2 separate regions of the Homo sapiens genome follow, and region 2 is linked to region 1. The links come from fine-mapping of genetic effects on gene expression. A gene starts in region 1. The other region holds a variant in brackets. All regions are shown on one strand. Distances are between the middles of the regions.

Evidence for each region. PIP is the estimated chance that this variant, and not a neighbour inherited with it, causes the effect. A credible set is the group of variants that fine-mapping cannot tell apart.
Region 2: its variant is the best candidate, but not a certain one, in a credible set for the expression of TTC19 in whole blood (TOPMed, PIP 0.64).

What each region holds. Positions count from the first base shown.
Region 1 is chr17:15,998,312-16,001,328 of GRCh38, reverse strand. It overlaps TTC19 (tetratricopeptide repeat domain 19), which reads right to left and starts at 1,505. Exons shown (of 10, transcript NM_017775.4): 1 at 1,297-1,505; 2 at 1,084-1,211. The coding sequence starts at 1,480. ZSWIM7 (zinc finger SWIM-type containing 7) reads left to right here and starts at 1,625. Exons shown (of 5, transcript NM_001042697.2): 1 at 1,625-1,810. The coding sequence starts at 1,735. RefSeq lists silencers at 1,152-1,541, 1,892-2,051 and an enhancer at 1,662-1,751.
Region 2 is chr17:16,048,603-16,051,102 of GRCh38, reverse strand. It overlaps NCOR1 (nuclear receptor corepressor 1), which reads left to right. Exons shown (of 46, transcript NM_006311.4): 41 at 2,115-2,258. Among named protein-coding and RNA genes, the nearest start is that of TTC19, 50 kb to the right of the region's middle. The variant G/C (reference allele first, on the strand shown) is at 1,356.

The DNA.
Region 1 (3,017 bases):
AGGGAGGATGGTGAGCCAGAGGATTACTGCCAAATGGGTGGGCAAGGTATATGCTGGTTTAGATCATGTGGGGTGTTGCAAGCCAAGGCAAGGAGTTTGTATTTTATCATAAATGCAGTGGGTAGCCATTCAGAGCTTTCTGACAAGGAGATGACATAATCCAATTTACTCTTTTTTTTTTTGGTCGCTTTGGTTTCTGCATGGAGAATAGATTGCAAGAGGCCAGGAGGCCAGGAAAGACTACTGGAGCATAGTTGGTGGCAATGATGGTTTGCACTAGGGTGACAGCAAGGGAGATAGACAAAAGGGGAAAGATTTGAGAAATATTTTGCATTTGTTGGCAACAGGACTTGTTGCTGGACTGTAAGTGTATTGGAAGGCAATGGTAAGGTACCACAAGTTTTAAGAATGACTATGAGGTTTTTAGGCTGAAAAACTGATGGTAGTAAAGAGATGGCGAAAGCGTATGTTGAGGAGGCATTAAAGATCGTTTAGTTTTGGGCATGTTAAATCTGAGAGGTAGGTATGGTCCTAAAGTGCAAATGGCATGTCAGTAGCACACTACAGAATGGAAATACAAATTTGGACGTTGTTGGCATCGAGTAGGTATTTAGCTCAATGGAAGAGATGAGATAACTTGGGAAAAGAGGAGGAAAAAAAAATAGAAAAGGATGTGGAGAAAAGGAAGAATTCAGGAGGAGAACCGAACCGCATAACCAACACTAAGTTGCCATTTTCAGGCCGCTATATACGTGCGAAATTATGTCATTTCAGATAGGCTGGTTAATTGATAAAACCACTACAAAACGTTCCCGATATTTCGTTTGCATAAAGCGTGATGCCTAGGGCGCCATCTCCATTTGCACTTGACACTGCAGAGGTTTTACTGCAGGCCTTAGAGTCGGAAAAGCCTGGATGGATTCCAATCCCCTCTCGGATGACCCACCTCATTCTCGGCAATTTTACCCGCGGAGCCTCCATCCACTCTTCGGCGAGGCGGAGAGAGTAATGCGCAGCAACGCCAAGACCCCGCTCACAAAGGCTACCGCGCTCGGCCGGGCGCAGGGCCCGGAGCCGCCTCACCTTGGCTCGCTTCAGCAGCTGGATGATCTCTGCCTCGGCCTCGTCCGCCCCGTCCTCGGCAGCGGCCCCGTCGGCTCCCTGCTGCTCCTCCTCCTCTGCCGCAGCGGGCCTCGAGAACCAGGCGAGCGCTGCGGGAAGGGGCTCTGAGGTCATCGGGCCCGGCCCGCGCCCCTGTCCCCGCCCGGCCGGCCCCGCCCGGCCCGCGCCCCTCACCTGCCAGCAGCGGCAGCAGGCCTGGGCCCCGGCCGTGCGGCGCGACTCGGGATGGCGGCACCTGCACCTCGGGCCCCGGACCTCCTGCCAGCCCCGGGAGCAGGCGCGCGGAGCAGCCCCGGCACCGCCGCCCCGCGGCCCGCAGGAAGCCTCGGCCCAGGCTCCAGCTCAGGAGCCGGAACATGCTCCCGCCGCGTCCTCTGCGCACTGCAGGCCAGACGCGCTCCTGGCCCCCGACCACGCGCCGAGCGCCCTCCGGATTGGCCGGGCCCTGACGACTGAGCAGGACATCCCTGCGTCCGCACGCGCGATGACGCGCCCCGACGTCACTCCGTCTCGCCCTGCCCCGGCGGGGGGTCAGGATCCTCCACAGGTAGGCGCAGTCAGCTGGAGCGTCGCGGCGGTCCGCCGGTCGTGGAGGGCGTGTCCTGCGGCGCGATGGCCGTAGTGTTGCCGGCGGTTGTGGAGGAGCTCCTGAGCGAGATGGCGGCGGCGGTGCAGGAGAGCGCGCGAAGTACGGGACCGAGGTCGTGTGTGGCTGCGCCATGGGCGCGGGCGGGGCATCCGGGCACCGCCGGGCCGGGAGGCAGGAGGCGGGGTGTCCGGGCCTGGCCCTGCCTTTTTTCCATGTGGTTCTCTAAACCTCTTGTTCGTAAAAAGACAAAAAAACAAAACAACAAAAAAGCGAAATTGGAACAAGTAAAAGTCAAATCGATTCAGCAAATATTTACGGTACAGCGCAGTTGCAGGAGCCCCTCCGTCGGAGCGAGTAGGCCAGTGGGGACCGAAGTGCTGAGAGCTGGCCGGGTCGCTGGGAGGGGTCCCCGCCCGGGGGTGGAAGGGACGGGAGCCTACAGTGAGTGATAGAAACGTGGAGTTCTTGATTATTTTACACGAAATTTTGAATTATTAAACTTCTTTTTCTCAAATTCTGATGTTAACATTAAAGTTAATGCTTCCATACACTTTAAAAAGTAGGCCCAGCGCAGTGGCTCACTCCCGTAATCCCAGCACTTTGGGAGGCCGAGGCAGTTGGATTACCTAAGGTCAGGAGTTCGAGACCAGCCTGGCCAACATGGTGAAACTTCGTCTCTACTAAAAATACAAAAAATTAGCTGGGCGTGGTGGCGGGCGCCTGTAATTCCAGCTACTCAGGAGGCTGAGGCAGGAGAATCGCTTGAACCCGGGAGGCGGAGGTTGCCGTGAGCCGAGATCGCGCCATTGCACTCCAGCCTGGGCAACAAGAGCGAAATTCCATCTCAAAAAAAAAAAAAAAAGCATTTTAAGAGCCACAAAACCTAAATGCATATGCAATCGTTGGAGTAAATCTGGGTATTGTGAAAGCACCATTTTTTTTCTGACCAGCAGAGGGTACTCTTTGGCTATGCTCACCAAAATCACTTGAGAAGGGTTGATCTCAAGATGTGTTCAGAGTATGCTAGGATAAGATCAAATCAAATTTGATATACTCAAAATGCATTGACTAATGAACTACTCTTAGGATGTAAAAATGGCCACCTTATAAATAACAGCCATATCAGGCCCCCAAACTGCCATCGCTTATTCAACTTGGATGGCTTTTGTTTTAAAAGTACTGTACTGCATTTTGAAAGGGTTTATCTTGAGTTACTGTTTTTAAGGAACTGAGAAAAATAAGCCAACTTTGTTTCCTCATCTCAGTCAAAATTAAGGAGACTTAAGTATATGTGCTTGAAAGATTA
Region 2 (2,500 bases), 50 kb before region 1:
CTTTGGGAGACCAAGGCGAGAGGATCGCTTGAGGCCAGCGGTTCAAGACCAGCCTGGGCAATGTAGTGAGACCCCATCTCCACAAAAAAACTAAAAAATAAAATCGCCCAGGCATGGTGGCATGCACCTGTAGTCCCAGCTACTTGGGAGCCTGAGGTGGGAGGATCACGTGAGCGCAGAAGTTGAGGCTGCAGTAAGCAGTGATTGTACTACTGCACTCTAGCCTGGGTGACAGAGGGAGACCCTGTCTCAAAAATAAAAATAAAAATAAAAATAAAATGGGCAACAACAGAGAAGGCAAATCAAATTCTTCATCTTTCATGGAAGAGAGTTAACAGATACTGTTTCAAGTTTTATAAATAAAAAAAACATGTTTAAGATTATTTACAGAGTTTTGGAGGTAAACAGCAAAACAACTTAAAAAAAAAGTGGCTATCTTGAACAACTGGATGGGCTGATTGAGAAAGGCCATAACAAATCATATTATAATTTTGCTTTAGTCTAATAGTCATAATTCCAGATGTTGAAAGTCACAGGTGGCTTTCATATGCATAATCGCTATGTCAAAAAATTTTAGCAGGGCCGGGTGTGGTGGCTCACGCCTGTAATCCCAGCACTTCAGGAGGCTGAGGCAGGTGGATCACTTGAGGTCAGGAGTTTGAGACCATTCTGGCCAACATGGTGAATCCCCGTCTCTAATAAAACTACAAAAATCAGCCAAGTGTGGTGGTGGCTACCTGTAATCCCAGCTATTCAGGAGGCTGAGGCACTAGAATCCTTTCAACCTGGGAGGTGGAGGTTATAGTGAGCCAAGATCGTGCTACTGCACTCCAGCCTGGGTGACAGAGCAAGACTCTGTCTTAAAAAAAAAAAAAAATTGAGGGTGTGGTGGGGCGAGGTGCTTGTAATTCCCATTACTTTTGGAGGCTGAGGTGGGAGGATTGCTTGAGCCCAGGAGTTTGAGGTCAGCAACATAGTGAGACCCCTGTCTCTACAAAAAATTAAAAATGGGCCACCAGACATAATAAAACATATAATAAAAATATTAGCTGGGCATGGTGACGCATGCCTGTAATCCCAGTTACTCGGGAGATGTAAGTGAGAGGACCACTTGAGCCCAAGAGTTTGAGGCTGCAGTGAGCTATGATTGCACTCCTGTACTCCTGCCTGGGCAACGAGCGGGACCCTGTCTCTAAAAAATAAAAATTTTAATAATAAGATAAATGGGCCAGGTGCGGTAGCTCAGGCCTGTAATCCTAGCACTTTTGGAGGCCCAGGCAGGTGGATCACCTGAGGTCAGGAGGCCTAGCCAACATGGTGAAACCCCGTCTCTACTAAAAATACAAAAATTAGCC[G/C]GGGTATGGTGGCGCATGCCTATAATTCCAATTCCAGCTGCTCGGGAGGCTGAGGCAGGAGAATTGCTTGAACCTGGGAGGCAGAGGTTGCAGTGAGCTGATCACACCACTGCACTCCAGGCTGGGTGACAAAGCCAGACTCTGTCTCAAAAAAAAAAAAAATGATAAATGGGTGGGAGCTAAACAGTGTGTCTATCTTATATTATTCTTACCAAATGGTATCCAGAGAAAAAATATAAAATTGCAGAGAACCCCTCTGCCATAATATAGTGTAACTAGAACCTATGTTGACTCACCTGATAAAACTTCTTGGGTGTCAGTTTAGTACTGAAGTCCTTTATCTTTAACTTGACGATGAAAGAACTGGTCAGTCGACTCAAAATAGGTAGGAAAACCCTTGAGGTTTCACCTGGACTAAGGAGCCAAGGGTGAGATGGTGTCTGATGTTGAAGGACATGCGGAGCCTCAAGGACGCAGCTTCTGCCACTGCTGCTGCCCGGGCAGCACTGTCTGATGACGTGACTCCTGGATCCACGGGGCGCGCATGGGTCAAGTGGCAGTAACACAGTGGTTTTTTTTGTTGTTGTTTGTTTGTTTTAACTATGTATATAGTGAATACCTGAGGCAACTTTTTTTCTGATAGAAATTGGCAGCTTTTGCTCCTTCTCCTGAATGAAGTCATGAGTTAACAAGTTTCTGTTTAGGTAAGTCCCAGGTTAGCCTTTGAAACACAATCTAATATTTCACATATTACAATAGTAGGCCTGGAAAATCCCCAGAGAGGAGTCACGTCTCTTCGGAGCCCTACGAGCCCATCTCCCCACCCCAGGTTCCGGTTGTGCATGAGAAACAGGACAGCTTGCTGCTCTTGTCTCAGAGGGGCGCAGAGCCTGCAGAGCAGAGGTAAGTGTGCTTCCTAGTGACAGCAACCATTCATGGCGTGGGTGCTCATGCTTTAACATTTCCTTCAGTTGTTGCCGTTTTTCTCAGAACTTTGGGCTTTTATGTCTGGATGGCATTCTTAGAGGATCATTTGTCTCTTTTCCTACTCATCTAATGCTAGTGTATTTTAGCAAAAAGAAAATATTTATAATATCATATTTAAATAGGTTAGAAAATATTTGTTCATTATTCTTGAAATTAAA